Regions from separate parts of the Homo sapiens genome. Here region 1 is linked to region 2. The links come from fine-mapping of genetic effects on gene expression. A gene starts in region 2. The other region holds a variant in brackets. All regions are shown on one strand. Distances are between the middles of the regions.

Region 1 (17,207 bases), 300 kb after region 2:
CTTGCTCTCTTGCTCAGACTGTTAGCTGAACTTGGACACCACCCCTCCTTCCCTCCATCCCCTGGTCTAAAATTGTCCTTTCTTTCAAGGTCACAGACCTAAAAGGGAATGGGTGTAAGAGAGGGGGGAAGCCACACCATGCAGCTCCTTGTTGACTTCACAGGTTTTTGCCAGGATGGACTATGAAATCCATGGTTAGTTCCTGTGAGCAAACCAGCATTTCACCCAAAAGATTTACAGTTCAAAAGAAAAACCCAAAAGAAGCTGCCTAAAGGCCAGATTTTGCCCACATTTTTCCAGTAACTCCAAAGCATGTTTCCTTTCAGGCAGAGCTCAGACTGAAATTGTATTGTAGGTCACACATGAATCATAGTAATATAATGACCTTCAAGAATGTCTAAATGGAATAGCATGTAGCAGCAAATTATATTTTCAATTTTTTTTCCTGATGCATAAACTAATTGAGGTGCCATGCTAAAGCTCTAATATAATGGACTAAATTCTTGCTGAATTACTCTGTATTGCTGTAGGGAGTTCATTTTGCCTTTCACAACTTATTAACACAGCCAGTAGACCATATTAGCCTGTGTTTTGGTTCAAAAGATTGATAGTGTTTAGTAGTTGTCTTTTGAAATGGCATTGGAAATTTAAAGATTGGGCTATGTGTAGATCAGGGTCTGGGGCAGGAGCCTTCCAGCTTCAGGCCTAGCTGTGGATGGACCACCGGGATACTCTGACCTATCTGAAATGTGATTCTCCAGAGCCTCCTAGGATCGACCTTTTCCTAAGAGAAGAGCGTGATAGGCAGATACCTCCATCTTAGCATAGACTAGCCCTGGAGGAGCTTGATTGTGTTCTACAAGGAAGGTTTCTTCTGATTCCTGACCCTTGTCTGCCCCCTGCCAGCGCTGTGAGATTATTGTTAGTTAACTTGATGGTAAACAGTAGAAAATGACTGTCACCACAGTAAACAGATGGAATCATTCGCTCCTAGCCTTGGGAATGGACAGAGACCAAAGGCTCTCCTGAAACTGCCCAGCTTTCCTGAATTTCTCAAACTCTTGAAAATGCTCCATAACAGCAGCTACACAATCTGGAAGAGGTGTCCCCCAAAGGACCCTTGGTTCCAGGAGACTCCAAGCGCTAGTAGCTTGATTAGCTCTTTGGCTGTAAGGTGTCCACCCAGAATATCATGGGAAAAGCTTATCTGTCCTATGCCTTAAGTCAACCAGTTAACCAATTCCCAGAGAGGGGAAAGGTGTTTCTTCAGAAGGGGATTGGGCTGCTGTTTGGGAAGGGAAATGGGTACAGGGCAGTCAGAGAATGGCCAGTGCCCACCAAGGCACTGTAAGGGAGATACCGAAGCATTCCCTGAGCTGCCTTGGCTCCCTGTAGAAGAGCGTGAGCCTTGCAGAGAAACAGGACCTTCCCCGTGTTTGTAAAGAACTTTTAACTCTGAAGAACCAGTGCCTGCTGGTCCCCACGAAAGCACCATCAGGCCTAGGAAAGGCAGTGCATCTGACCCAAGCAGCTAAGATGCCCGGTGTAGACAGACTTGCCCGGTGAGAGACCGTGTGGCTCAGCAGAGGGGACCTGACTGAGAAGCAGGGGATGGCGGGTGCTGTGGGTAGCAGGCAGGAGCCTGAGTCTAGGGTGTCTCTCATATCACCACATCCCCCCTTCTTCTGCTCGTGTCTTCTGGCCTCCACTTTAAAAGCTCATAGTCCTGTACAGGATTTTGTGTTTGTTTGTTTTGGGGAGATTTTAAACATCATGTGCCAGGGTCACACTTTCTTTGGAACAGACCCATGGGGGTCCATGTCTCCCAGTTACCTGTAACCCCTGCTCACTGCCCCTGAGCAACAAAATATGCCCAAAACCTATAGAAGAAAGGCAATTCATGAAATCGAGGTACTCTATGTCAGCACTGAAATATACCGTAAAGATTAGCCATCTAAATTTGATTTTCTGAAAGTATTGATAAGAAAACACCTACATCAGTATTGGTCCAAGTCACAAAAAGTAAATAACCTAGATAGATATCTGATATATTTCTTATTATTCTTAAATTCTTTTTGCCAGCTTGGTAAACAAATAAATCATGGGTACCCGTCTCCAACGTTGTTGTGCTGGTTTGGTTTCCTTTTCATTTCCACCTCTTTTGTCTTCCCCTCCATCCCAGCCCTGTTTCTCTTGTCCTCCCCTAGACAGCCCCCTCTGTCTCTCTGTGGCCCCCTGTCTCTCTCGGCCTCTTCTCTTTCCCATGATCACTCACTGTCAGACAGACCCTCTCCTAGGCCCCCTTTGGCTCCGCCATCCCATCTTATTTCTGGTTTGCAATCGTATTGAAAGAAGATTTGGTTTAATCTGACTTTCCTCCTCCAACTATCCAAGTCAGGGCCATAATGTTGTGCAACCCTAGGAGGTGCTTTTGCTGTTCTCAGTGGCCCTGACACAGGACATTTGACAAAGCAAAGACTCAGGTGTGTCACTGTCCACCAGGTGAACAAGAGCTGCAGGCCTTCTGTGGTCCCTGACGTGCTAGAGATTTAAATACGCCTGCTTTTATTTCTTTTTATAATGGAGAAAATGTCCTGTGAAAGTCAGAAACAGATTGGATATTGGATTTCACAAATCTTTTTCCCACTTTGCCCTTCTGACCTGGATAAGTCACTTAAACTCCTAATATCCTTCAGTTTTCGCAATGCTCTTTTATAAAGCGTGCTGACCTGGGGAGATGCAGCTTGACACCTGGACTGATTTTTCACATCCTGGGAGGGCTACGGTGACTTTGGGGTCAACAACAAGGGATAGCTTTGACAGGGGGATTTTAATTTTCTCCCTTCAGCCACAGATGCTGTGGAAAACATTGTGAGCACAGGCAATAAAAATTACTAATATGAATGTGTGTTGTTAGGTAAGTATGTATATTTTAAATATTTTATATATATATATATATATAATATGTACATAAAATAGCAGAGTTCAAGTACATTGGCTAAGCTTAGATTTGAGTGTAAATCTCTACAGGAAACTTCTTTATTGGAAGGATAGTGATAAACTTGACTCATCAGACACCAGTAATATTGGGAAGTAGATTTCATTAGTGAAGAAGAGTTCAGACTAAAGGACCAAAGCGGTGACCAACGCTTATCCCTGTGTTAAAGCCAATCGGTGGTTTTGTTCAGATGTGAAGTACTGCACAGTGCTGGTACTCAACAGACCACAGCTATGCGCACAGCATGGCCGCATCTCACAGACACGGCATTAAGCCATGGAAGCCAGACACAAAAGAGTATATCCCAAATGATTCCGCTCATATGAAGTTCAAAAACTGGCAATTCGAATCTCTGGTGCTAGAAATCAGAATAGCGATTGCCCTTGAGGGAAGGTTTGTACCGGAGGAGGGAGTACGAGGAGGGCTGCCTGGGGGCTGGAAGTGTTGTATAATTCATATCTAGATGCTGATGGCATAGATATATTAACTTTGTGAAACTGTATTCAACTGTACACTTGTGTGTGGTTTTCTGTGCATATACTTTAATTCAAAAAAAGATAACTAATTAAAATCAGCAAGGTTTCCTCTCAGCACGTTTCCTAAGCTTGGCAGTGTTCCAGGGATGATAGGGGGCTTCAGAGAAGAATGAGACACTGTCTGTGACCTTAAGAACTTTCTAGAATTCTAGTTCTGTCTTGTGTCCCCAGCTGTAGCCCCAGTCCCTTGTTTTTTTTTCATTTGCCAGAATTTGTTCAGCCCATTTGAAGCATGTGGCTCTGGACATGGCCAACAAAGGTCATGCCTCATCTTAACAGACTTTAGAGCACTTTGAGGTCGCTGCAAAGAACGCTTCCTAATCAAATCATTTCTTTGCGCCAAGGAAGCAGGCTATGTAAAGGAGGCGAAAGCTGCCTAATTCTCCTTAAGCAGAAATTTGTTTTGCGAAGAGAAAACTCTTCTGTAATGTTTAGAATTAGTCAAATCAGATCATTCTATCTGGAGTTTTTGTCAAACAACACTAATGAGTTTATTTAAAGAAAAAGACATTACCTGACAGTTGTATTGTTCTCTTCTTATGGTGGTGCTCTTGAAGGGAGGTGTCTCAAATACTTCCTCTTTTCCTTTCATTTATATTTTTAACTTTTACTTCTCTTCTTATTATACCCTTTAGGCTTTATTGGCCCTTTATAGGGACCCTACTTTGTGTACTAATTATGACAAATGCTGATATAACATCTGCTCCCAGATTTAAATTGCCTTCCAGTCTGTCAGAGTTCATCTTGAAGTCAGCTTTGCTGTAAACATCAGCCTGCCTGTTAATGCAGCCTGTGGGAGACCTGAAGCCGGAGCCCACAGGAGCTACCTGAGATGAGGCCTGTGCAGCGAGCCTTGCTCTATCATGCATTAAACTGTGAAAGAGCAGTGGCTCCATGCACAAGTCAGCAAGCTCTGCATCTCCCGTTTTCCAAATCATCTCACCCTTGATCTTCCCAGAACAATCAGTTGTGCACATGCATTGCACCGCGAGCATTGGCTGGTTGAGTGTAGTCTACGATATATACTGGTGACCCTGTTTGATGCAATTCAAGTCCCTTTAAAGTTGATATTCTCAGGGTCCCTTCCCGCAGAAAAGTGGAAGTCAGGTCTCTCTTTGCCCCTCTGATAAAAATAATTACTAAGATTAAGATCTTCACTTTTCAGCAGTTGATTTTCATAACTTCTTACCAATACCTAATTTCAATTTCAGGATCGTTTCTTGAGAGGGTACCATGAGACCAGTAAGTTAGGGATATGGAACAAGAAAAAACATCTTGAGTTGAGAATACTTGCTTTCAAGTCTTCTCTCTAGATTACTAGCCTTGCTCACCTCTCCTGGCAATAGCTTCCTTACCAGGAAATGGGTAATACCAGAAGAAGATGTGATTCCAGGCCAAGTGTAAGGATAACATAAAGTTAGGTGCCTTAGGAAACTTTTGAAGGGGATGCAAATATTTATCTTGATTTAATGGTGGTTTCACATGGGTCAGCACTCATGAAGTTATACATTTAAAGAATGTACAGTTTATCTGGCCGGGCGCAGTGGCTCACACCTGTAATCCCAATACTTTGGGAGGCCAAGGGGGGTGGATCATTTGAGGTCAGGCATTTGAGACCAGCCTGGCCAACATGGTGAAACCCCGTCTCTACTAAAAATACAAAAAAATTAGCTGGGCATGGTGGCACATGCCTGTAGTCCCAGCTACTCAGGAGGCTGAGGCAGGAGAATTGCTTGAACCCAGGAGACAGAGGTTGTGGTGAGCTGAGATCGCGCCACTGCACTGCAGCCTGGGAGACAGAGCAAGACTCCGTCTCAAAAAAAAAAAAAAAAGTACAATTTATCATGCACCAGTTTTACTTCCATTAAGTGTAAAACATTGGATGTTAGAAGATTTTTAGAAACTAAGTTATTTTACAAGTGTTGTTGTTAGTAGTCCTCATTAATATTTTGAAGGAGAATTAACAAATTCTCGTTGAGTAGAATGTCTTCTTTCAGAAGGAAATTTCAGGTTGGCAATTCATAGAGGTAGCTAAATTCTACTTTCTCTTCTCAACTGTGGCATCGTCGACATTTGGGCCAGATAATTCTTTGTCCTGTGCTTTGGCATCCCTGGCCAGCATCCACCAGGTGCACTGCCTGTGCACCCCTATGTGACACTCAAAACTGCCACCAAACACTGCTGAACACTCTATGGGGCAGAACTGCCTCTTGTTGGGAACTACTGCTCCAGGCTTAGGCCATGTTGCTTTCACAAATTTTTTGTTGTTACTCAGAGTCCAGAATTATTATGTGTAATTCCTAAGACTGTGCCAGGGTTGTTTGGGTTTTTTAAGCACACTGAGACAATAATAAAGGTTTGGGTCTAACCCCTTCCCTCCAGCCCATTTTCTGTTACAGATGAGATTTGCCTGGCCTAAAATATATTAACTATTCTTGTGTGCCCTCTTTTCCTTGAACACATCCCTCCAGCTCCCACATCTGATTTTATCCCCAGTTCCCAGAGCCTAGTCTCACATATGCTTTGCTTTCTCAGTGCCAAAAACGGCAGATAATGTTGCAACAAACATGCAGCAGGGGTCTGGAGCAAGTAATTGTAGTAAGGATTCCTTTTTGTTGATGATTATAGGACATGCAAAAAGATCTGTAAATATCAGTACTTGGAACTGACCCTCTTGTCCTCAGTATTGCTTTCCCTTTATTTTATAAGAAGGATTCAAAACAGATACTGACTGTGCAATTTTAAAATACCAGTAAGCAGCACATTTAACCTTGTACAGATGGCCGGCCTTTTTTTTTTGTTTTTTTTTTTTAATCATCTTTCTATTTAATGAGTAACTGGGAGCGGGGAGGAAATGACTTTTTTAAATAAGAGATTAACTAGTGACACTGTGGCTGAGAGGCAGATCCCCTGTGCCTGGCACCCTTGACATTTTCCTAGGCATTGTCTGCTGTAGATCTGAGACAGTGCTGCCCAGAATCAGTGCTGAGCCAAAGATATTTCTTCTGTGCATATGTATTTTGTGACTCCGTCTTCTCTGGTTGGTCTGATGATAGGTGGGACAGTGGAGGGCATTCCTCACGTGCTGGTTTTAATGACAATGATAGCACTTTCCAGGTGGGTGGGAAGTTGTTTCTGGAAATTTTTTCTCTTCTTGACACCATCCAACAGTACCTTGACCGTATTCTGATTGATTGATTGATTGATTGATTGATTGATTGATTGAGACAGGGTCTTGCTTTATCACCCAGGCAGGAGTGCAGTGGCACCATCACAGCTCACTGCAGCCTCTACCTCCTGGGCTCAAGTGATCCTCCTGCCTCAGTGCACCACCCTGTCCAGCTAATTTCTTTATTTTTTGTAGAGATGAGGTTTCTCCATGTTGCCTGGACTGGTCTCAAACTCCTGAGCTCAAGCGATCCCACCCGCCTTGACCTCCCAATTGACCATGTTCTTAACTCTTGTCTCTTCCACAGAAATACCTCAGGGACTTTTTCAGCGTGATGCTCCAGTCCGCAACATCTCCCCTCCACATCAACAAAGTGGGACTGACTCTCTCGAAACATACCATTTGTGAGTTTTCACCATTCTTCAAGAAAGGAGTCTTTGACTACAGCAGCCACGGGACGGGGTAGAGCCAGGGGTGATGGAGGAACCACCACAGCAGTGCCTTCTCGTCGAAGCGGGCTCCGATGCAGGGCAGCTCCCCCATGCGAGGATCCGGGTCTGCCTCCTCCTGCTGAAGACAGACATGCAGCAGCGGGCCCGGGCCACCTCACGTTTCCATACCTAGTGCCTGAGTTTGGGGATGGGATGCTCTGCCTGCTGATGTGGCCCTGACAGGCAGCCGTTACCGTTCCATTGCGGTTGAACGTGGCCTTTTCCCACAGTGCTTCCTTCTCACTGCGCAGCAAAGTTCGTCCCCTGTGGCAAGATAGATGTGGTTGGGCCATCGTGGGTTCCCTGAGCCCAGCCAGCCTGGGACCTCCCAAAGTGGGTGGCTTACCAGACCACCCTTAAATGACTTTCATCTGGTTTCCTCTTTCACCAAAATATACTCGTATTTTTTATATTTCTTCCATGTGGCTGGCTATATTCCAAGAAAAGCATTTTAAATTATTTCATTGTATTTTTTTCTTTTTTTCCCTCATTTGAATCAGAACTTTTATATAAAACCCAAACACTGATGTTTACACAGAATTTCATATTCTGCAAAAGGGATTTTTTGATCCAATCATGACTGTAGTCTTCCATGCTTGACAAATTGGATGTAGACAACATTACTTAAAACTTCTATAAATCCCTACAATTAGGATATTTATTTAACCTTGAATATTCAAGAACATTCTCCCAAATCTAAATGGCTACTGTGCATTCTTGAGCTTTTTCTGCTAAGCACAAAATGAACGCAAAGCTAAATGCATATTTTTAAGTATTATTCACATTTTTTGTTACAGAATCTATTGGATCTTTGGCTGGAAAACTAGAATTTATAGCAGTTTATTAATGATACCTTAAATTACTCAGGACTTAATGTAGCATTGCACTTCTGTGTACAGTAAAACTGCTTTGTTTTACTAAAGAGAAAAATGTGAGTGGAAAAAATATGTATGTGGTATATACTCAAATGTATATAATTCTATCTATAGATTTATATATGTATACATTCTGTACAGTAGTTCCATCAAAATATGTAATAATTCACACCAA[T/A]TTTATTAAATGTATTTGCTTTTTCAAAATTTAAATTGAGCTGCTATCAATATTAAATGAAGTTATGGCATCTACCCTGTAGCTCAGCTTATTTTAAGTCTGTAACATGATCATTCATACTAGTCTGTTTAAACATTGATCTAATGTTCTTGGAAATATGCATAATGTATAACTCAGCATTTGTGTTGCAGAAGATGCAGTGATAGTAATGATTGAAGTCGTAAATGAATGGTTAACAGAACATGTTTGCATTCCATCTTCTAGAGAATGCCTTCACAACAAAGTTCTCCAACCTGAAAAATATGCATAAACGTGCAATTATCCCTATAAGGAGGAAAACTAGTATTGCACTAATTAAATATCATAGTATAGTGTGAAAAAAAATGAGGACATTTTTGCTGCAGAAGGACCTGCTTTTGTCTGCAGTTGTGATTACAGGAATAGGTTTAGGAGCAATTACTACCAGAGAATTTCAAACTAGAGATTAAGGGATAAGAGCTGGGTAGATAATAATTAACCATAGGTCATTTATTTAAGAGGAGTCTTAAGCCCTAAAGATGGTCCCTCATTTGCTGAGTAAACTAAGTGGTTTCTCTTCAAACTGACCAGATAATCTATCTCTTGGCCTTTGAGGCCGGTATTGGAGACTAGGCTCCTGGTAAGCATTTTGTTAAAATCACACAGAAGGTTTGGCAAGAATAAATAGACATGTGTTTGTAAGAAGTGCTGAAATCAGAAGATCCTTCTATTCTAATCCTCACCTTAAGTAATTATAGTTGAGTTTGGAGTTTGAGTACTACTAGCAAGCTCTGGCCAAGGCCGGTCATAACATGGGAGTCGTTTTGCCTCTCTAGGCCTCAGTCTGTCCATCTGAAAATGAAGCTGTGGTACTGGATGGTCTCTTGAGTTTCATTCCAGCTCATGGTTACAGCAGAGGAATAAACCATGTCATTCGGACTCATTACAGTCCCTCATATGTGTACGTGAAGTACATACTTCCAATCTGATTTAAAGGCAGCTGATTCTGAATAAAACATGAGGGAAAGTTGAAAAGCAAATGAAAAGTCACATCTAAACAACAGAATTCCTTTCTGGAGTGAAGATAAGACAGATGACAGAATTAGGATAACAAATGGAAACTCCATTGATTTGGACTAATTTAAAAGAGTGAAAGAAAATTAGCAAATGGATATTTTATTACTTCCAAGTCATCAAATAACAAAGTAACGCCAAGCTGACCACTTTAGGCAATTCAAATTGAAGTGTCATGAACATAAATACTTTTGCAGTCGGTTGGACAAATCTAAGGAACTTAAACAATTTTTTATTTAAGTAGTTTTGACATTCACTCCTAGGTCTTGCTTGCATGATAAATATGTGCACCAAATTTGTTGATATCACTGGTATTGTAACCTTCCGCCCAGTTCCCACTCAGACCTTGCTATTGCTGAATTAGAAAGATTCACATTTAACCTCGTGATTAATTTTGGCATATGAATAGGGAGTAACCAAGTCATGCTGGCTTCCCCAATGACTGACATCTAGAAGATTCTGTGGCTCATAATGGGGGATGATTTGAAGATACACAAACAGGGTATCCCACCCCAGGGCCGATTCTATTTACAATTCTATGCAGAAAGAGCTAGTTCTGCCCAATTTGGTCCCTGATCTACTCAGAGCTGTAGACAGCATATGTGTCCAAGTCTGAGCAGAAGCAGCCAAAAGCTTTCACGGCTAGAACATGCCATAGACTCAGAGGTGGAGGCACCCTTGGGGAGCAGCTGTGGTGCAGGGTCACGTTGGTGTTCTGTATTCAACTTTTAAAGACAAGATTTTTTTTTTTCTGGACACATCTCCTGCAGCACAAAACCACAAGACCCCATTTCCTCAGGTGCGCAGTCAGGGATGCAGAGCCACGTGCTAAGGGGATGTGGCTCCTTACTGATACTCTGAGCCTGCCACAGGCTTGCCTTGTCCCCTCAAAGAGAATGTGCATAGCGCTTCAGGCCTGACATGCTTCAAACAGTAGCATTAGGTTTTCAAGTACACTGACGTTTATAAATGCCTAAAATGTTGCCTTGATTAAAATGTTGCCTTGAGGTGTCATCAGTTGACAGTTGAACGTCTCTGCCGCAGGAGACCCTTCTCCTTCCATAATCTGACACACACCTATAGGAGTGATTCAGATCCGACTTTATCAGAAAGGTCTTTCTTTTTTCATGTTAAATAAAAGAAGGGGAGTAGAAAAGTTAGGCAAAATAAATCCATGGCAAAATTAACTAGGGGCTGGAAGGGACAAGGACAGTGAGATGGCAAAATTAACTGCTTTAGTTTTACTTAGCTTATCATGACAGGTGATTTAGGTTTTGGGAAAACTAATTAAAGACCATTAATCTACAGAGACTCATTCTCGCAAATTAAACCTTGTGTATTCCTCCTTTTTCACATGCAAGAAGACCTGGCTATTGACTTTCTTGGTTTTTTTTTTGTTTGTTTGTTTTTTGGTTTTTGGTTTTTTTTCTGTTGAGACTGCTTTTACTGATGACAGTTCATTAGATAGGAAATGATTCTGTGGTACACAATTTTGAACTTTGCACATAGGGAATTATTTCCAAATTGACAAAAGTTGCCCATTATTACAAATTTCTGAAGCATCCTGTTTCAAATTGATCCCGTAGTGGTACCTTTGAGTTAGAGGGGTGATGTTAATGTTGACCAGGGTGTTACCTTGAGAATGATAATTTGGGATCCAGTAGAACCCTGTTAAACTTTAAAATGGTAGAAGGAGCAAAAAGGCAGTTGACTGAACTGAAGGGGTTGAAGGATGTGAGTTCATCCTTGTTACCTGCAAATAGCACATGCGTGCACTTACCATCCGGGAACTCTGGGCACTAGGCTGTGGCACATCTCCCAAGGTTACCCCATGCCTTTCTAGAAAGCTGTCTCCTGTGTGACTCTTGCAAAATTGACTAAATGCAAAACATCCTTTCTTTGACTGTCCTCATTTGAAATATACTCTTGTATTTGAAAATGAAATAATGAGGTTTTTTCCTAAGGATTACCTCTCCAAACACTGCGAATTTGAAGTTCATTGACTTGGTTTTCCCCTTCTCCATTGCCGAAAAGGCAGATTCTTCCCCATTCAGAGAGAGACAAATGGATATGTTTGCAAAAAGATGCACAAGCTATCTTTCGCTAAGCATCAAAGATGGGGAAGTGCACTGGGTACAAAATGGGAAATGCATAAATGAAAATGCAGAAAGCCCCACAAGATTAAATATAGGAAATGGTTTGGTAACATCAAGACATATCACCAGAAAGAGGGAAGCCTTCCTCCAGAAATTAAATCCTGTGGGGAAAATGTGAAAAATATAATTAAACATCACTGCTTGAAAGCAGAATTCTTTTCCTCAAAGTGTCCAGTATTCTTATGCACAATTAACATTTGCAGAAGTGTTTGTGTCTTTCCAGTAGCACTTACAGTTGTGCCTGAGAGCATCTCACTGGAGAACAGCCTCGGGGTTTGCTATTCCTGTGACTCCAGCGTTCCTTCCCACTCTTGCAGAAGGAAGGAAGGAGGGTGGGCTGCAACTGCTCTGTCAAAGCTGCCGGGACAATCTCCAGAGAAAAGAATCACAGAAAACAATAAGAAATACCAGTTTGTGGTAATTAAGGGTTTAAAAAAAATTGCACTTTGGTTGATTTCTAAACTCTGTTAGCTTTTCTCCTAAAAACAAGCTAGAAGCCATGAGAAAGGAGTGGGGTGGCCTGCCATCACAAATGACTTTTTGGTGTGGTGTTTGAAGTTTGATTTCAATGACTGTAATACGAAGAGTTGACCCACAGTGGGTGCAAGCCTTCAGCTGCAGAGTGATTAAAATACTGGCTACTTATCCCTTACAAGTGAATGGGAAAGGCCGTGTTTACATTTATGAAGGGTTTTCAGTGCCTTCTAGAGCAACAGTCTCTCAGCGCACCTATGTGTAGTTTGTTTTTAGTAAAGGATTTCTGGTCAAGGAGTGCAGCATTCCCTTCAGGGTTTGGGAACTGGAGTATTCTTTCAGACTTCTTATCCGAAGAACTTGGACGAGTTGGGCATCGGAAGACTTGCCCGTGTGTACAGCTCTGCCCAGAAGACACCGGTGCCAGCCAGGATCTTCTACCGCACACCTCAAGCCTGCTCCCCAGCTTGGGTCCTCATCTCGTGAGCATACGCCGTGTGCCATTCTTCCCTGCCTGCCATCCCCATGGCCCCTCTCTCACTCTGTAACCCTTGGGGGCTGGGGGCTGGGAGTTGGGAGGGACAAAGACAGTGAGATGACAAGGGTATTTGAAGGTGGCCTGAGAAAGTTCATAAGGAATGGAGGACACTTGCCCTACTTGAAGCCACCTGTGTTGATTCATGTCATGGCCGCCTCCCCAGCTCTTCCTCCTGCAGTGGGAGAGGGGAAGGAACTCTGGCCATTCTTGTGGCTCCACTGGCCACCTAGTTGAGAAGGAGCATGGCACAGAGAGTGCAGAGCAAGCTGGCTGTGTCCTTCTTACTCCTTGTTAGAGAAGAGTTGGCTCCTCATCAGGGACCCGCAATCCACCATTCAGTCAATGAACACACATTCACGAATGTCTTCTATATCGTGGCCCAGGGCCCAGTGCCGGACACGCAGCGGTAGGCAGCGTGGGCATCATGGCCACAGGTCTTCCCTCTGGGAGCTCCCATTCCACTCAAGACATGGACCAATAATTGCACAACTGTATGACTGCAAATTGTGATACATGTCATGATGGAAAAGTCAAGGATGCTGGGGAGCATGTGCTAGGGAAATGCTCTAGTCTGGGAGGCTCAGAGTCTCCCTGGCAAGCAAAGTTTGGGCTGAGACCTAAGAGATGAGAATTGAGTGCCAGAGAGATCACCCCAGATTGAGAAAAGACCTTGAATGGCAGAAATCACCCATCCTGGCTATGATATGAAGAGAACAACAGGGCAGCGTGGGATTGGAGAGGCAGGTACAGGCCAGATTAAAGGCGCCTGAAAGGTTGCTGACCAGAATTTTGTAAAGGGAATCATGTTTTCCCATTAGCTACCACTGTTTCAGGATATCTCTGGGGGAGGAGAGATAAGGGCATATGACAGCTGAGACTCAGCCTTCAAAGTCCCACATAATAGGGAGAAAGAAACAAGCTTCTGAATTAAATATTAACAACGGAAGGACAAGATCGCAGCGGAGAGTGCTGTCCTGCGCCATGCAGGGGCTGGCTGTTCTGCTCTTTTTCTTTGACCTTTGGTGCGTTTGGAGCTCTGAGATTTCAGAGGCTCTTGCCATGGAGAAGGACCATCTCCTCAGACCCTCAGATGCCCAGCTGCGGTGTGTCCAACTTACGTACTGCAGCACCAGCAGGCCCAAGTAAAGTTCCCGCCCTGTCTTTGGGCTCCTACCTAATCCTTGCTTTGTGAATAGAAGACAAAAGCCCCATGCAGACACAGCTGTCACAAAGCTACGTGCTAGCTGTGGGGCTCAGTTTATGACTTAGACCAGCAACTGCACAGAAGCATTGTGTCCTCAAGCCCAGGATGCCTGGGCATCAGATAATCTGTGTACCTTCCGGGCCTCAACATAATCATCTCGGTACCGTCCATAAATGAAAAGATTGTTTTTAGATTCAACAGGACGGCCTATAAATTAATGTTAATATGATGTGTCTGTGTGGGGCCATCAGAAATGGGTTGCTCAATCCATGCCTTGCGTTTACAGAGAACCCCTTTGCTGGAATAGAACACAAAGCTCAGCCACACTAAGTGTGTGTGGTTCAGTGAAGCAGGTCAGTTTCTATGGAGCACATGGCTCATAGGCTGATACTGAAACCAGCCCAGTGGTCCCATAGAACTGATGTCTATGATTTCTTTGAATAAACAGAAAATGATCCTCCCAGAGTTAAAACTTGAGAAAGTTACATTTGTCTTATCTGAGTTCCTTTCTCAGGAAACCAACCATCAGACCTCCCAGATGGCATCAAGAAGCTGGACTTCACCAGAGCACCACATCTGGACCATGAGACGTAGACCCCTCACCCAGCATGACTACCCAAGTGATCACCTGCTTCCTGTTGAACAACCCCTCTTCCTTGCCTCTCCCTAATTTCTGTTTCATGGCTACATTTCTTCCCTGCTATATAAATCCCTAATTTTAGTCAATCAGGAAAATGGATTTGAGACTGATCTCCCATTTCCTCTGCTGAAGCATTCAATTAAAGCCTTCTTCCCTGGCAGTACTCATCTCAGTGATTGGCTTTCTGTGCAGTAAGCAACAGGACCTAGACCAAAACCCTGGCATTTCAGTAACAATACTCCTAACCTAGGGCCTCCAAAAAATTTCAGCATGGTCCAGTTTGTATGAACTCAGTGCTGTTAGTCAAAAGGACAATTGTGCTTCATGTGTTAATTCACTAGAACATTTAGTGAACTAACTTCTCAGTTTGGTGCAAGCAGAAAAGGTCCTCCTAGTCCCTCCCAATGGCATCTTCACCAATGGGGCACAGATTGCCACTGGCCGTGGTTGCAGCCAGTGACAGCTTCCCACACAAGCAAGAGGCCCTGAGGGGCGAGGACGTATCTCAGGTGAGGAGAAGTTGCAGCAGGATGCGGGTGGCAGGTCGTGCTCAGGCAGGGAGAGGGGTACCTAGCTTCACTGCAGCCTCTGTGTTTCCCAAACAGCCAGGCCCACACACCTTCTCCTTTATGCTGACAATGCTCACAGCTGTTCCACCTCAAAGGCCTTCTTTCTCAGAGTGTATACTAAAGCAAGGGTTTATTTTGGTGGAAGTGAAGATCCTTCAAAGGCAGTCTCTCTGAGTAGCTCTTGCCCAGGGACAAATCTATTGAAGTTAAAAGCAAGAGGAAGGAGGAGCTGGACTCTGTAGGGCTTTCCAGCTGCACGTGATGCTACTTTTTGACATCAAGTAGGATGCCACATCATCTCCACATGCCACTTCCTTACACACGGGGTGCAATCTTGATGAGCTAGGCAGGGATCCTGATGATGGTTAGAGGTGGCAGGAGCCCTATTAGTTTCCCAGAAAACTACAACCGTTCTTCCACCAGTGGCCAAGCCTCTTGTTGCACGCTCGAGTCAAGGGAAAAGTCTCCATTTGTTCCAGCAAATCTGCTGGTAAGGCAATAACCACTGCAGATGAGGAATGGGCTACAGCCCCTAAGGACCCCAAAGAGCACAACTTTAGCATGTTGTTTTATACCTCCCGGGAGTCTGCACTTCTCAGAGTGACCAAGACAGGGGACGGGGGACCAGTTATTTCTTGCATTTATCTGTGACTGGGAGCAATTACATCACTTATACTGCCTTGTGAGACATTCTCCAAGCTCCCAGCAAAAGCACAGGTCATGAGCAGGACAGCATTGCACCTGGCTGGAAACAAAAGAATGTCAGAGCTAGAAGGAGCCTTGAAAACAATCTGGATCCAGGGGCCATTCGGGGGCTAGACAGACATTATAGATGCAAATGGGGAAGACGCGCTCCACCGAAAGAAATTCAGGTTGCATAATAAGAGTGTCCACCTAGGCTCTGGACACAGGCTGTCACATACACAGGCTGCACTCTGCCCATGGCCACCATTCAAAATCTAATGTAAAATGATCTCTAAAGGTAAAACCATCTGAAGGAGGTTCTGACTTACCCAAGTGACAGAGCTAATTGGGACCTGAGTCTCAACATTCTGTTAACTCCAGGCTCCCTGCCACTGCCTGGATTAGAGAAAAACACTGAGTACATCAGTCATGGGTGAGGCAGGAGGTAGAAGTCACACCAGTTGTTTTCTTAAAGAGAATTTAAAATAATTACAGTTAACTGAAAAGGGGAAAAAATACAAGAACTCCAAATTGTCATGGAGGTTATAACTGGGAAGCAGCTGCCTCCCTTAGGGCTGGGGGAGCATGGAATTATTAATATGCAGAAACATGGAGGAAAAGCCCCCACAGCACTGAAACTAGGCCACCCTGGAGGAGGGGACATCAGCCGCTGGTGCTGGTGTCTCTGAGCTGAAGGAGGGGTCTTGTGGGGCTGGGACCACGGCCCCTGAAGGGGTGTGCTGGCATCTCTGAGGGTCAGGGCACAATGAAGCTTGTTGGCAAATGTTGAGAGAGCTGCAAGTTGGACCCAGCTACTGCTCCTGGCAGGCACTTGCACTGCCTGGGGGACGAAGTGTGGGTGAGGTGATGCTGACAAGAACAGGAAGTGATCTCCTGAGGAAAAGGAAGCAAGCAGGAAGTGCTGCTGGAGGCTGCTCACAGGAACAGACAACAAATACAAAGGAGCAGGTCCTTTCTCCCTCCTCCAGCCCTGCGCTCTCCCTTGAGTGCCTGTCTTGGCAGAGCCTACTAGGGAGCATCTGGCAAAGCAAGAATCAGGCTTGCAGTTCCCAGCCCCAGCATCCCATAGCAGAGGAGAGAAGGATGGGTTTAAAGCTGGGAGATAGGAGCTTACTAATTGGCACCCTGAGCTTTTGCTTCAGTTGAAACTGGGACTAATCCTCATCAGCTCTCAGTTGATTCCAGGAGACCCATCTGGAAGCTGTAACACTCCAAGCCACACCACAGTTCATCACTGGGCATTCTCGAGCTACTGCCTATGCTGGTTGCTGGGCCAGGGACGCCCAAGCCTGGGAGTTCATCTGCATGGCCTCTGCCCTCTGGGAGCTTACCCAGCAAGGGCAAAATTTGTCCCAAACCTTTATTAGGTGGCCCAAGAGACTGGACACTTTTCTCTTGAAGCAGCAGCCATGGCCATGGGTGCCTGCACGGTGCAGTGTCCCTCCTCCCACTTGCGTCTTCTGCCTCACCCAGACTGTACCATGGGTTTAGTTTCCTGAGATAAGAATTGTTCAAAAGCTGCTTTAGAAAAGGAGCCCAAGCATCCTAGGGCACCCATTCCTGGACTATGATGATAGTTTCGTCT
Region 2 (16,316 bases):
TTTCCCCTATCACTTCATTCAATTCTGCTTCTGACAGCTGCTCTTCCATTTCTAGTGATTTCTCCAACACATCTCTGCTGAGAAGGAGGGGCTGAAGGAAAAGGCCTGAGCTATAAGGACACAGATATCAGGGTTCAGACCTCGGCTCTAATACTTACAAGTTATATGACATTCGGCAAACTTCTCCATATATTTTCATCTGGTGTATTTCTTCTCTATGAGTCATTCATGTACAGAGAAGTCTTAGTGCCTTGGGGATCTTCAGGAACATTACACACCTCTCAGCAACAACTTTGGAACACCCAGTTTCGTACTAATGCTCCTTTTTGAGCATTTGAATGATTTCTGCAGCATAATTTTTGTAGCAATAATAGTGAACCATAAAAACTCAATGGCCTCATTATCAAGTCATCTGCACAGGGCCAATTGATTTGGATGATATCAATTCTCTTAATCCTTCCCTGGAGTGCAGTGGGGCAGAGTCCTGCTTGCTTATTTTACACAGAAGAAAAACTGCTGCAGCTCCTAGGCACCCCAGCTTTGTTCCTGGAAATACGAGGAAATGCAAAGGTGTGGCATCCCTACTGGCAATCTACTGTATTCCCATGTGGGCATGGTGAAATCTCCTTCACATAGATTGCAGGAGCACCTCCCTGACTGCTGAGGTCCTGTGGAAAGGGAACTTGAACACCATCCGGAATATAGGAATTTTTTTATGGGGGGAATGGTGAATAGACAGACAGAGTTCATTTCCAGATTTTTATTCACTCTAAGCTTTTTCAGATTCAGTGTCTCTGGGGTGCGCATTGTTGAGCATCTTTACACTTCAGCCTGCTGCCATCAAACCCTGGACTTTATCCCAGAGCTACAAATGAGATCTCAGCCCTGGAGTTGTCTGTCATGAGCCTCGGGGCCTGCTTTGCTGTGACTGGACACTCTACCATCTGTCTGTCAGCTTTGAAGCGCTTCCCTCTTTTGTCCCAGGAATGCAATTAAGCAAGTTACTTGGAGCTGTGCCTTCAATAATCTTACTGGAGGTTTACACAGTCATAGGGTGAGTTAACAGGGTAAGGGTTTAATCAGTGAGTTGGATGAGGAAAGTATTTTGTTTCTTGGCTTAGTTTTGCATGGTAGCATTTGTCTCCTTATGTAAACAGAGTGCAAGTTACTATCCTGCCATCTTCTATACCGTATTGAATTACCAATGTAATTGTAATCAGCACTTCTGGAAAGTGCTGATGGCCTATTTTGTACTTGTTTGTGTTAATCAATGTTAATTACAAAGCAAGCACAGGGGTTAACGAATTATAATGGGCTTAATTAAGCTTGACAGTAACAAATGGCATAACCTTTATGTTATGGCCTGGTTAAAGTAACAAAAAAAAAAAAGGGACAAAATAGACCAGAAAATCATCACATAGGAATCCATATTCATATACTGATTACCTACAGGAACAGAATAGTGTAAGGAATTTATTGGTTTTGCTAATTGTCAAGTTAAATTTTTACCACACTGGCACTACTAGGAGTACAGAGAACTATTAGGCCTGACTTTTACCCTCAAAGAATTTGTAATTTTGTTGGAAAAGAGACACAGAAAACCAAGTTTTAAAATGGTCCAATGAGTCACAAGTGAGTGATGCCTACCATGTTACAAAGCATTTGGAAGAGACAGGGATCACCGTGGGTTGGTGCAGTGGAGGAAGACTAGGGAAGGTAGAACTCAAAGAAAGAACTCGATGGAGGAGAGGAGGGAAGTAGGCATTCTTACTGGATGCATGGGTGGAGCAAAGGTTTGGAGGTAGGAATGCAAATACTGTGTTCAGTGAGCATGCATGCTTCTGTGAATCTGCTTCATTGATTTAAGTGTCACAGAGGGGTAAGGAAAGTGTTGTCCACAGTCACACTACCTGGTCTGAGCCTTGATCTCCCCGTGTATGGAGTAAGAAATGACCACAAAGACACTTCCGGCGCCCAACTACAGCTGCAAAAGCCCTTGAGCAGGGCCTTTTCTCATTAGATGAGATAGGATGTATTTGGATGCAAGCAATAACACACACACCCTAAACAGAATGGCTTCCATAACAATCATCTGTTTACTGCTCCTAAGTCTACTGGTCAGCTTGGTTGTTCCGCTGGTCTGGACGGGCTCAGTTGTTCTGGGCTGTTCTCACTCATACATCTGATGACTTGGTGGAGGTTGGCTGGTGTGAGGTGGCCCCACTCACATGTCTGGTGGCTGCCTGGCTATTGGTTGCAGTGCTGGATTTGACTGGGACACACCAACATTCAGTAGGTTAGCCTGGGCTTGCTTACATGACAGCAGCAAGTTTCCTAGAGCCAGGGTTAGGAAGCATGCAAGGCCTCTGAGGCCAAGGCTTAGAAACAACATGAAGCCAATTCTGCTGCATTCTGTGTGCCAAGGGAAGTTCCAGGGCCAGCCATATTGAAGAGGTGGAGAAAGAGATTCTACTTCCCATTGAGGGGAGCTGCAAAATGACATCGCAAGGTATGAGTCCAGGGAAGAGAAGCATTTACAACTATTTTTAAACTTTACACTGTGCTTCAGGTAAAGAGGCTTTCTCACTATTCCAGAAGCAGGACTCGCTTTTCCAACACTAAACATTTGTTCAAGGAATTTCCTCTGCTTTAGAAGTCACCTCCTCACCATTTTCTGGGTTCAAATCTGTCCCTCCTGCAAGACCGATCTCCAAAACTAATTCATCCATGAAACTTTTCCCAATCACTTTAAATAAACATGGTTTCTCACTCTTTCGAAGTTAAAATGAGGCCACAGACTCTACAGTCTATCAGTTCTGAACTATTTATGACCACATAGTTTTATATATATGGTTGCATACAGTTATATGCAATTGAAAACAATCATTTTTATCTTAGTATATAAAATGACTATGATTTAGGGTGATAGCGTCTATTAAATTGAATCTAATGTGATTTCTTTATTCACTTTTGCTATAAAAGAAAGCAGGCATTCATGGTTACCTGCCTAAAGCTTTACTAAAATTACTTAGTACGATTTTTGCAATTATCTTTACTGTGATTTTGGAGCTCAGATTTTCTCTCTAGCCCCAAAGTATACTTTTTCAAATTATTCCTGCTTTTAATGTTTAGTATTTTAGAAGATTCTAAATATACTTTAAATTTTGTGACTTAGAAAATGAAAATCGTAGGCCAGACGCAGTGGCTCACACCTGTAACCCCAGCACTTTGGGAGGCCAAAGCAGGTGAATCACTTCAGGCCAGGAGTTTGAGACCAGCCTGGCCAACATGGTGAAATCCTGTCTCTATTAAAAATACAAAAATTAGCCAGGTGTGGTGGCAGGCACCTGTAATCTCAGCAGCTTGGGAGGCTGAGGCAGGAGAATCACTTGAACCCGGGAGGTGGAGGTTGCAGTGAGCCAAAATAGCGCCACTGGACTCCAGCGTGGGGGACAGAACAAGACTCTGTATCAAAAAAAAAAAAAAAAAAAAAAAAATTGGTGCTGGGTTTGGACTTGGTATCTGTGATTCCTGTCTCTGGTACTACTATTTATTATACATTTATTTGAAAACCAGGAAAACACTTGTTTTTCTCATTGGCTCACCACATAGCTCTTAAATTCAACTTAAGTCCCTTGGTGTAAGGCACTCCTGTAGGAGACACTAAGTGTATCATGTGATATAATGCTTCTGGTGAGTGCTTCTAGCACATAGGGAAATCGATGGGTTTATGAGGTGTCAGTTATATCCTTCGTCCCAATTTAAGCGTGCCAGTCTGATGTTCATCAAGATTTTTTAAAAGTCATGTTTGTAAGAAAGTAAATCAATTTTATTCCTCAGAGGCTAGGATGAAGAAAAAGCACAGCTCATGAGAAATACAGTATTTTTCTTCTGATAACAGTATTCCCTGATGATTCAAATATTTTGCGGTGGAGTGAACATTCTATTACAGTGCTATTTTGCGTGGAAATGAAGAAGCTAAGACTCAGAGAGCTTAAGTCACTCAAAAGTTTTCGTCCATTAAAAAAGTTTTCAAAATAGAGATTAAAAAAAGATTTGAAAAAACGTTTTAAAAAAGAGATTGCTAAACATCAGAAAAAAATTTCAATAATAAATGAAGACCAAAATAAACTACATCAAAACAAACTAAACAACCACATCCCCCACCCCACAGTCCCGCCATGCACATATGCATCTTGAGACCATTTGGGTTTTAACCCAGATTTCAGAATTTTCTCTTCTCCTTCCCATCACAATTCAACCTTCTTAGAAAATAAAAATGTCGGCCGGGCTTGGTGGCTCACGCCTGTAATCCCAGCACCTTGGGAGGCAGAGGTGGGTGGATCACGAGGTCAGGAGTTCGAGATCAGCCTGTCCAACATGGTGAAACCCCCCATCTCTACTAAAAATACAAAAATTAGCCGGGCTTGGTGGTGGGCACCTGTAATCCCAGCTACTCAGGAGGCTGAGGCAGGAGAATCGCTTGAAACCGGAAGGTGGAGGTTGCAGTGAGCCGAGATCGCGCCACTGCACTCCAGCCTGGGCAACAAGAGCAAAACTCTGTCTCAAAAAAAAAAAAAAAAAAAAAAAAAAAAAAAAATATATATATATATATATATATATATATATATACACACATATATATGTATATATACACAATAAAAATAAAAATGTCTTTTATCCATCCAATTGAATTTTAAAATCATAGATTCTTAAACCTTTTTTATGCCGTGGACCCTTTTGGTTGTTTGGTGAGAGTAACATTTTCAGAATAACATTTTAAAATGCATAAAATAAAATAAATGGGATTACCAGGAAAATCAATTATACTGAACTATAACTATTAAAATGTTAGAAATAAATGTGATCTTAAGGTAGGTTTGTTATTTAGTGGCTCTCTTGAGTACCCACCCCTCCTTTGCGGGGCCCTCCCACATTGCCTGGGCGTGACCATGTGACTGCCTTTGGTCAATGGAAGTCCAGCAAAGGCTTGTGCATAGTGCGGTGCTCTCCTGGCGAGGTGTCTCGCCGCCGCAAGAAATCTGGAACCTGGTCTAAACTTTTTGAGGATGAAAAAGCAAAATGCACCAACTTTTCCTCACCCCAGGTGAGCCTAGAGCCCAGCCACAAAGCCCGGGTGACACCAGCAACCCAAAGAATTGAGAGAAATAATAACCGGTTTTTGTTTTAAGCCTCCACATTTTTGGCCATTATTTTTATGCATCAGTACATAACTGATTTGGATCCCTGAATTCTTACTGACCTTTTGGGCCCTGGATTTACTGCTTTTTTTTTTTTTTGAGATTGGGTCTCACTCTGTCACTCAGGTTGGAGTACAGTGGTGCGATCTTGGCTCACTGCAACCTCCTCCTTCCATGCTCAAGCGATTGTCCCACCTGAGCCTCCTGAGTAGCTGGGACTACAAGCACACGCCACCATGCGTGGCTTTTATTTTTGTTTGTTTTATTTTGTCGTAGAGACAGGGTTTTACCGTGTTGCCCAGGCTGGTCTCAAACTCCTGAGTTCTGGCAATCCATCCTCCTCGGCCTCCCAAAGTGCTGGGATTACAGGCATTAGCCACCGTGCCCGGCCTAGAGCTTCTGTAACTGTTTTTCACTATCAGTTATTTTAAGCTCTCACAGTTTGCGTAGAGGTCATCTATCCCCTGGCTCCTTGCAGGGAGGGTGGCAGCCGACAGCATCTTCACTCCCCGAACGTGCTGGAAATGCCATGTCTCAGGCTTCCCCTCTGACTTGCCCATTAGAAGCTGCAGTTTCACAAGACCGCCAGGTGATTCCTTTAAACATTCAAGTTTGCAAAACACTTTAAAGCAGGCACACTAAAGTCTGAGATGAGCAAACCCCTTATCTTATAATAATCTTCCCTTTCAGAAACTTCCTTCACGCCCCAATAGAAATATTTTCTGCTAAGAAAGTGCCCGTTCCGTATCGTCTGTGATGATCAAGCCTTACTGCTTCCTATTGAAAAGCTCCAGGCATGCTGTTTGTTGTCTAAAGCGTCTGCCGGGCTGCGATGGTCCGTTTTGTGTCAGACAGCAAAGTCGTGGATGGAAAGGGGGCTTATAAACACGTGTAGGTTGTTGGAATTACATTAACGAATGAATGAGCAAAACCTTCTAAACCACCGACCAATGAAACCCCGATACAGAAAATCGCTGTCATGAGTAAGTTAGCACTCCTGAAGAGTTTGAATACTGAACTGGCCAGAGTCTGCGCGCCGACGCCCCCCAGGTGGCCGGAGTGACCCGGAGCAGGCGTGGCTGTCTCTCAGACCCGCGCGTTGGGCCCGAACAGTTTGTCCCCACGCAGCTCCCATATAAGGCGGGCCCCTCCCCTGCCCCAGCCAGCTAGGTCGCCGCGCTGGCTCCCTGGCGGCTTCTCAAACCAACCCGCCGCTACTGCGCATGCTTGGCAAGCTCGCCCGCTCCTTAATATCCTGCTCCGGCTGTTCCTGCCACCCGTTGGTCAAATTCGCACCCAGCTCTGCTCCAGACAGAGGGAAAACCCAGTGATTTCCGGGCTCTAGAAACAAAGGGAGGCTATGATTCCCTGCTGGCCCTAGGGGTCCAGGGAAGGTTATGGAAAGATAATTCTTTGTGTAAGCGGGTTGCGTACTTGCAGACATCATCCCACTTGATGCATTCACCACTCTATGCCGTTGTTCCTGATTTGCAGATGAGACAAGAAGCCTCAGAGGCGCCCAGTAATTCAGAATTACAGGCTGACAAGGCTAGTGTTGGAGCTAGGACTTAAAAACAGGAGTTCCGCCTCCATTCCTTGCGTCTCCCATTATAGCTTGGCTTCCTGGAATGGCTGCTCCTGTGGCTCGCAGGTGGGCTTCTGGGTGTGCGCAAACGATTTCATGCATGCTCGATTCACTGAATGAATGAATGCATTTACCTTCTACACAGGAAGGGAGGTGGAGCTCACTTCTACCAGAGGCCCTAAGCCTTAAGATACCAGTTGTCGGCCTGGCGCGGTGGCTCACGCCTGTAATCCCAGCATTCTGGGAGGCCAAGGCGGGCGGATCATTTGAGGTCAGGAGTTCGAGACCAACCTGGCCAACATGGTGAAACCCCGTCTCTACTAAAAATACAAAAATCAGCCGGGCGTGGTGGCACGCCCAGCTATTCGGGAGGCTGAGGCAGGAGAATCTCTTGAACCCGGGAGGCGGACGTTGCAGTGAGCCGAGATCGCAGCATTACACTCCAGCCTGGGTGACCGAGCGAGACCCTGTCTCAAAAAAAAAAAAAAAAAAAAAAAAATACCAGTTGTGTTCGCCTTTAACTCCCTTATGATTAAAACTAAAAATTACTAAAGTGTACAAAAGTGCAAAACAAGTCTAAATAAGGTTTGATTCTAGCCAATATAATGACATTCCCGCACACATTTAAAACATCCAACACCCTATTAATTTTCGTTTATCGGTATCCCGAGTTAAGGGGTCCAAAACATACGGTCGGACCTCCTTAGGGTAGCAGAGAAGGCCCTAGCGGAGTTTGCCACCAACAAGCTGTGATCATCTCTGCGCCTCAGTTTGTTCGTGTGTAAAATGGATACGTTAACTCATGTTTGGCTGGGTGAAGCCAGGTTCTTGTTAAGGGCTGAAAAACTGGCTTTGGTCACCTGACCCCAGGACTGTGATCCTTGCCGCTGGCTTTAAATTGCTGCGATCCTCTTCTCTCCAGTTGTTCAGGCCATGAGGGTGGGTTCTAGTTTTCCTGAAACCATCCGCTCCGGGTCGCCCCCATAACCTCTGCGCCAAGGTCCACAACGTGGCCTTTCCAGACTTGCAGATCCCGGAGGCTGCTTCCAGGCCCCGCGGCCCCGCCCCTCTGCACCGCCCGGCCGCCGCCAAACCGTGGCGCATGGATCACGCGGGCCGGAGCCGTTCTGGGCATGCTCAGTGGCCTGGCAGGTGGGGCTGCCGCGGAACTCCAGGTCCGGCCGGGAGCAGAGGGGCGGGGGCGAGAGGGAAGTGGGCGGGAGCCGCGATCTGAGTAGCCAGCGTCGCCGGCGACCGCGGAGTTCTGGGCTAGTGGGACCCCGCGCGGGCTGGTTCGGGATGAGCGATGGCATCGGTCAAGGTGGCCGTGAGGGTCCGGCCCATGAATCGCAGGTGAGTGGGGCCGCCCGCGCCCCGCCCCCTCGTCGCGCCCCCACCCAGAGGAAGCCTGTTTCCAGCTCCCCCAAAGCCAGCCTGGACTTAAAAGTGTCACCGGCTGGTCCCTGGCCCACCGGGCCCAGGCTGTGGCCTCTGGGGGCCTGGAGGACTTCGTGCACTGCTGTCCCGTTCACATTGCCCTGGAGAGGACCCTGGTGGTAAAGGAGAAGATTCTATTAACTCTCTCCATCGTATTAACTTGAGATGTTCTTGTTCCCCCTTTAAAAAAGCATCAAGGGAACGTTACCATGAAGATGTAAAATAGTTGGGGGGAAGGTGAGAGTGCTGAGGGGGGGCACCACGAACTGTCAGGTGAACCCCTCATTTCTACCAACTCAGAAGTTCTCTTAACAATTAACCATGCTACTTTTTAATCTTTCAGTTAGAGATGATTTTGATTCCCTGAATGTCTAATCGATAACTTAGCAGTTCCTAACTTCATGTTAGAGAGTGGATGGGAAAACTTTGACAAAGTCCTGACTCCTAGAAAAAAGTCAGGGACGCTTTACACGTGTTTGAAATACTCTGATATTAAGAGAGAGGAAGAGTGTTACACACAAAATTTAATCTTGTTATATATTTCTACGAAGTAATGCTTTTTCAGAATCCTTCTCTTCATTCACTGAAAAATAGCCTGTGCTCCCTTTTCAATGACCTCTTTTTAATCCGTTTAGAAAGTTTCTTTGGAAAAGTTACTTTTTAAATTGGTTTGACTTCAAAGAATGAGGTAGAAATGGGATGTGTCCTCCAAGGTGACAGGCAAGGTTCACACAGAGCCATTTGATTTTATTGACTTCTCTACCAAGTTGGTGGATATTTGACTTACCATAGGGCCTTTTTGCTTTTGTCATATCAACTTGTGGAGGTTAATGTTTGGTAGTTCTGATGCCTGATTGGGGCAGCCGAAGGCCATAAAATCAAAAGATTTCCAGAACCTTATTTGACTCATCTAAATCTGTTTCTTCTCTTGGCAAGTAGGGAATCATTATTTTGGTTTGTAATCATTAAAACCCAGTGTTTTCAGAATCTGCTTTTTGTGACTTTTGAGTTATTTCTAAAGCTGTTTAGAGTAAGAGTTTGACTTTTTTGCTCTAAGGGAATATTTTTGTTTCTGTGTACATTCCATCATAGAAGATAAACTTTAGAACGATTTTTCTTTATTATGGATTTTCATGTGTATAGAAGTTCTTTTTCTTTTTTGGAAAAAGGTGAACACATGCTAGAAAATTGTATTGTGTAACTTTAGAAAGTATTTGTTAGGCTGGGCGCGGTGGCTCATGCCTGGGAGCCACTTTGGGAGGCCGAGGCGGGCGGATCACAAGGTCAAGAGATGGAGACCATCCTGGCTAACACGGTGAAACCCCTTCTCTACTAAAACTACAAAAAATTAGCCGGGCGTGGTGGTGGACGCCTGTAGTCCCAGCTACTCGTGAGGTTGAGGCAGGAGAATGGTGTGAACCCAGGAGGCAGAGCTGGCAGTGAGCCGACACCGTGCCTCTGCACTCCAGCATCAGTGACAGAGCGAGACTCCCTCTCAAAAAAAAAAAAAAAAGTATTTGTTAAGCACCTACCAAACACATAGCATTCCTCAGGGTGCTGTCTGGGATACAAGGGGAATGAGACCTGGTGAGCCATGGTGAGAGAGGGATTATGTACTGGCATGAATCTTGTGAAGTATTGGGCCTGCTGGGACAGGAACTGTGAGTTCAGTGCCTTGCCAGTGTAGGCCTGGAGCCCAGGTACATGGAGGGATGGCAGGAAATAAGTCCAGAGGCCATGGGCTTTGGGGAGGCAGATTCGCGTGATGTTATTTATATTCTCAGTAGAGAACTCTGGTGGTGTCAAGATTGAGGTAAGAGGCAGGTGATTAGCAGTTTGAGCCAGAGATGAAATTGGAAGGCAGGATAGTTACAGGAAGACCACTCACTGGCAGAATTGGCAGGATTTGGCAGCTCACTGGATGGGAAGAAGGGGGAAGAATGCGAGTGTAGAGTCATTAACTGAGGTTTGATGCTGAAGGAGGTGAACAGGTTTGAGGAAGGTGGACAATGAAGTTGGTATGTTCTCTCTTGGATGTGGAGAGTTACATGAGATGTATTAAGTGTCAAGTACAAGCACAGAGCAAGTGTTTCACGCATGTTGACCTTGTTCATTATCTGAAGTGTGGGAAGGACATCCATCCCTCTGCTAGAGATGTTCAGCAGAAAGCTGAAAATGTGGGTTTAGGTCTCAGGTGATTTGAGGATCGACATTTGGAAATCTTTTGCACATAAACCACAATTTAAGGATGTTACGTGAGAAGAAAAGGGAGCCAGGGATTGGACATTGGGATATGCCCCTCTTTAGGATTTCAGGGAGAAGATTGGCTTGCAGTCCGTAAAGGAGAACCAGCACAGCAAATGGTCATGGCAGGAAAGGGAGAAGAGCATCCTGAAGGAGGTGGTGGGGGTTAGTGTCAAATATTGCCAGGATGATGAGAATAAGATGGTGTCCTTGGTCTTGAAGACAAGGCTAGTTGATAACCTTCCCAACAGTACTTTTAAGGAGAGTCAATGATTCAGAAGTTGGCAGTGAGTAGAAAGAGATATATAAATTGGCAACTGAATATACTTGACCTAATTTATAAGGAAAGACATGCATACTATAATAGTGATAAAATGCCATTTTTTTACCAGTGAGATTGATAAATATTAACTGAGCACCAATTGCTGGTACAGGAGTGATGAAACAGACGCCTCTGCATTGATCACGGAAGCATAAGGGATCAAAACATCTGAAACTTTCATATTGGGAAATTTGACAGTAGCTGTCAAGATTAGAAATCTGTATACTTAAGCAGAAAATGCTTCCCTTAAAAAATTGGAAATCTATAAACTTTTTGATTTGACCATTTCATTTCTACTTTTTCTAATTTCTAATTTTTATTATATGGATTATATTGCTGCCTACAAAGATATATGTGTAAAGATGATGATTTTTGCATCATCATTGATAACAAAAAATCATAAGTGACCTTAATATACAAAATTGGGAAATTTGTTAAGTTATAGCGTAAATCATTTGGTGGATTATTATGCAAGTCTTAAAAAGAGGGTGTTGATCTTAAAAGAGTTCCAAGGTAGAGGATTGAGAAAAGCAAGATATCCACAGTGGAGTAAAGTTGTGTGTTTGTGTGTGCTAACAAATGTACACACACACACACACACACACACAGATTCATCTATATGTAATGGTTTGTAAGAAACCTAACACTGATACCTCTAAAGAGGAGGACTGATGATGAATCCATTAGGCAAAGATGAAAGGCTTTTTTTTTACTGTTTGTTTTTACTTTCCTCATGCGTAGTTTTATAATTAATACTTAGAATTAATTATTAACCCAGCAGTGCTTATTTAGGTAATTTTAAAAAGTCACCTACAAAATTCATTGGCACTGGAGAAGTTTCAGTTGGTTGTGAGGAGGATTGAAGGAAGTTGTTAATGTTTTTAATGTTTATTTTTAGAGTAGTGGAGCCTCAGGCAAAGGGAAAGCAACCTACAGAAAAACAAGTCCCAGAGTTATTGGAAAGTAAGGACTGCTGGTGGTGGAGTATTGAGTTTGACTGAGTTTCTAAACTAGGGGCCTTTGCAGTAATCAGTCAGCCTTGTAAGGAATATGAGTGCTTGATTCAGGCCAAGATGTGATGAGTTTATTTTTATTGCCTTATGGCTTTCAATTATGTGGCAGTAATACTCATTTCAAATGCGGAAGTGATTCTGTTACGTAGGCAAAATGGTAGCCACCTTTATTGAGACTTGACTCTGTGCCAGACTCTCTGGTCCTAGCTCCAGGTACAAAATCCAGTTTAATCTTTGCAGCCATCTTGGCAGGTAGAGACATTATTGTTATGCCATTTTACAGATTGGGAGACAGAGTTTCTTAGTGTGTTTGGACTGCTCTAACAAAATACTGTAAACTGGGTGGCTTATAAACAACAAGCATTTACTTCTCGTAGTTCTGAAGCTTGGGATATCCAAGATCAAGGTGCCAGCAGATAGGCTGTCTGGCTGTCTTCTGAGAGCCAGGTCCTCATACATGGTAGGTTCTTGCTGTGTACTCACGTGGCAGGAGCAAACAGACTCCCTTGGGCCTGTTTTATAAGGGTACTAATCCCATTCACAAGGACCTCATGACCTAATCACCTCCCAAAGGCCCTACCTCTTAATACTATCTCAGTGAGGGGTTAGGTTTCAATATTTGAATTTTAGGGGGAGACAAACATTCAGATCATAGCACATAGTTAACTTGCTCAAAGTCAAAGTCAGTTTCTTAAGACAGTCACAGCTATGCCTTTTTTTTTTTTTTTTTTTTTTTTTTTTTTTTTGAGACAGGGTCTTACCCTGTTGTCTAGGCTAGAGTGCAGTGGCGCAGAGTCGTGGCTCACTGAAGCCTCAACCTCCTGGTGGGCTCAGGTGATCTCCCTGCCTCAGGCTCCTGAGTAGCTGGGACTATTGGTGCACACCACCACACTTGGCTAATTTTTAAAATTATTTGTAGAGACGGGGTCTCCCTGTGTCGCCCAGGCTGGTCTCAAACTCCTGGGCTCAAGTGATCCTCCCACCTTGGCCTCCCAGAATGCTGGGATTACAGGTGTGATCCACGAAAGAGCTGCAGTTGGGTGTGAAAAACACTGTTGTGGGTTCAAGTGAGATAACGCATGTGGATAAAGCTCTCCACACAGAGCCTGGCATTCAGCAGGGGCTCCCTGAAGAGTGCTTGTTGTCATTACTATTATTTTTACAGTTTAATAATTGTAACTTTATTCAAAAACAAGTATTTAAAAAATGCCAAAAAATATTTACTGAGTGCTGGTGATGTGCCAGCTTTATAGCTATGTTGTATAATGTGCTTGCTTATCTGATAGGGCAAATCCACCCCATTCTTTCTCTTTTCTGACTGTTCCTAGCCTTTCTTCCTGATTAGCCTCTCAGGTAGAATCTAGTATCAAGTCTATCAAGTTCAGGAGAGAAAAAGAAGAAAAAAAACCACCAGTGGCATTTTGCCTGGATTTGATATCTTTAGGGTGTACTGACGTCTTCCTCTTTTAAAAAGAAGATAGGTCAAAGGGAAAGTAGTTCATGGTTAGCCTCTTAGGTCTGTGATGATGAGGACAGACATGTCTTGTATTAAGGACGGGAAGTATCTGTCAAGGCACTGCCAGGTACCAGGTACTACACTTATTTCTTTTTTTTGAGACGAAGTCTCGCTCTGTTGCCCAGGCTGGAGTGCAGTGGCGCGATCTCGGTTCACTGCAAGCTCCGCCTCCCGGGTTCATGCCATTCTCCTGCCTCAGCCTCCCGAGTAGCTGGGACTACAGGCGCCCGCCACCACGCCCGGCTAATTTTGTTTGTATTTTTAGTAGAGACAGGGTTTCACTGTGTTAGCCAGGATGGTCTTGATCTCCCGACCTCATGATCCGCCCGCCTCAGCCTCCCCAAGTGCTGGTATTACAGGCGTGAGCTGCCAGCCCTATGCTTATTTCTTTACCTTGGCAATTGCATTTCCTCCTCTCACCAATTGACTGACCTATAAAAGCCAGGGGAGACTGAGACCCCTCAGATAATAATGCTGGGTTGAGCCAGCTGCTTCGGTTCCCTTCAGAGCCCTTTATGTAGTGACGTTGCCTCTGGGCTTACAGATGACAGAAGCCCATGGCCTCAGGGAAATGCCGATCAGAGAATACACAACACACAAAAATAACAATAGAATCTGTGTACGGTTGAGATGGAACCTCTAGGGGATTCTAGAGGCTAGAGGAAGAGATCTCCAGTGCTTCTGCCATCTCTTTAGATAAGAGGGTGGAACTTGAGTTGAGCCCTGAAGGGATATTGCCAGCGACCATATAGATAATTTCTGTTAGGTGCTTGGCTGATACTCTTTGGAAGTTGGCATTGTCAGCCCATTCTACAGATGAGGAACAAGGGCTCAGAGACTGTAATAAGGAGGTCTCTTATTCAGAAATAAGAAATAAGACCGCCCAAGGTCACATAGCTAGATACTATGATGCTGGATTTGAATCCAAGTCTCCCCTACTCTAACTTCCTAAAGTCCTTTCATTATACAGAAGACTTAGTTGAGAGGTGGGCAGGGGGTGGTTGGAAGGTAGGAACATGTTTATTTCACTAATGATTTTAGACAAATTGAAGATTTTGTAAGAATTAGTTGCAAGGCAGGTAGACAGGGTGTTGTGAGGACTTTTCTTTGTGAAGCCTGGGCATTTGGGTTTTTGATCTCTAGATCCCTATGCTGGCCAGTATAACTGTCGGCCACCTATGTGACTATTTAAGTTAACATAAAATAAAATAAAAAAAGGATTTTAGTTAATTGCATTAGGCACATTTCAAATGCTCAACAGACACATATTCAATAATGTAGATATAAATATATCCACCATCCTGGAAAATTCTCTTGTGCAGCAAGTCTGAATAAAGGCTTGAATTCCAGCTCTTTTACTTTCTACCTCCATACCTTGGCACTTTATTGAACATGTCTGTGCCTCAGTTTCTTCATCTGTAAAATGGAGATCTCCATAGGACCCACCTCGTGGGGCTGGAATGGTAATTTAATGAGGTAGCATTTCGTACAGTGCTGGGCCCAAAAGTAAGCGTTCTGTAAATATCAGGTATATTATTAGGCATTGTGAGCTACTGATGGTTCTAAAACAGGGCTGTCTTTCGCCAATTAGTGTTTTCTGAAGTTTCATCTAATAGTAGTGTAGGGAAATAATAATACTAGCACCAGTAATGGTGAACTTTTATTTACCATTTGCCAAGGGCTGTGCAAAGTGCCTTTTATGCATTATTATCTCCCTGACTTTCCTGCCACCACTCCGTGACGCAAGACTGAGGTTCAAGATGTCTGTCTGAGTGCTGACAACCAGTGCAGGAAGACAGTAAAGAGAACTGAAATATGACCCATGGCGATTGGATTCTGGGCATGGTTATAATTGGAAAAGGCAGAGGCAAGGGACAAAACTTATAAACAAAGCCCTGAAGAAGCAATCACTGTATTTTCTGATTATGAAAATAATGTATGCTTATGAAACGTATGTGTTATGCAGAAAAATATACCGAAGAAATCAAATCGCAAATTGCTCATAATCCCACGATCTGGAGCTAACTACTCATAAACTTTTGGTGCGTTTGCACCTAGTCTTTTTCCTGTTTGTGTAGGAACGTCGTCATGTACACACTTCTATATCCTGCTTTTTGCAGTTGCAAGAGACATTCTAAAGACCAGTCAGCAGGACATAGAGAAGTGGGGAGTCAAAGATGACTCTGAGTGGCTTGGGGCCTTATTAAGTGGAAGAATGACCTTTCCCAAAGGCAGTGATGCTGGCCCTACGCGGGTTGGGGTGGGTAGAAGGGCGTGTTGGTCTGTTGATTTGTTTCGGGGTGCTGGTGGGAACTCCGGGCAGTAGAAACTCAGGTGAGTTATCAGCTCTGCGGATGCGCATTTGCAGATGGGTCACTGGAAGGTGATAGTTGCTGTGGTGGAAGTGAATTCTGTCTCTCAGGAAGGGTAAAGCAGAAAGAGAAAGGGTAACAGCAGTGCTGCATGAGCCGGGTTCAGGCTGGAGCTCTTCAGTGGGCTAGCCGAGTGACTGGGCAAGTTGATTTTCCTCTTTAAGGCTCAGGTTCTGTTTTGTAAAACAGTGATTCTCCAAGTGTGGTCCAGGGACAACTGGGTATCAGTGAGACTCTTTTATAGGGGGTTCACAACGTCAGAACTGTTTTCACAGTACTACTAAGATGTTATATTCCATTTTTTCATTCTCTCATGAAGGTACAGTCAAATTTTCCAGAAACTACATGGTGTGTGATGATGTCACGGCTCTATGGGCTGTGCATTTTGTTTAAAATTTTCACAGTTTTAATTTCTAACATGGTAACTATCAGTAGATATAATTGATGTTAATAAAAGCTCTTGAGCCTCCTCAGTAATTTTTTAAGCCTATAAAAGCGTCCTGAGGCCACAACATTTGAGAACCACTTCCATAAAATAATGCTGTATAAGTAGTTGAGATCAGATGAAATAAATAAATATATAATAACTGTCCACTAAATCATAGTTACTATTATCTTTTATACTC

The links. PIP is the estimated chance that this variant, and not a neighbour inherited with it, causes the effect.
Region 1: its variant is fine-mapped to the expression of KIF16B in lung (TOPMed, PIP 0.92).

Annotation. Positions count from the first base shown.
Region 1 is chr20:16,263,215-16,280,421 of GRCh38, reverse strand. KIF16B (kinesin family member 16B) reads left to right here. Exons shown (of 26, transcript NM_024704.5): 26 at 7,011-8,318. The coding sequence ends at 7,169. Among named protein-coding and RNA genes, the nearest start is that of KIF16B, 300 kb to the left of the region's middle. The variant T/A (reference allele first, on the strand shown) is at 8,245.
Region 2 is chr20:16,565,052-16,581,367 of GRCh38, reverse strand. It overlaps KIF16B (kinesin family member 16B), which reads left to right and starts at 7,920. Exons shown (of 26, transcript NM_024704.5): 1 at 7,920-8,139. The coding sequence starts at 8,093. LOC124904875 (a long non-coding RNA gene) reads right to left here and starts at 6,065. Exons shown (of 2, transcript XR_007067539.1): 1 at 5,641-6,065; 2 at 2,009-2,489. RefSeq lists silencers at 7,884-8,013, 7,800-8,029 and an enhancer at 7,642-8,163.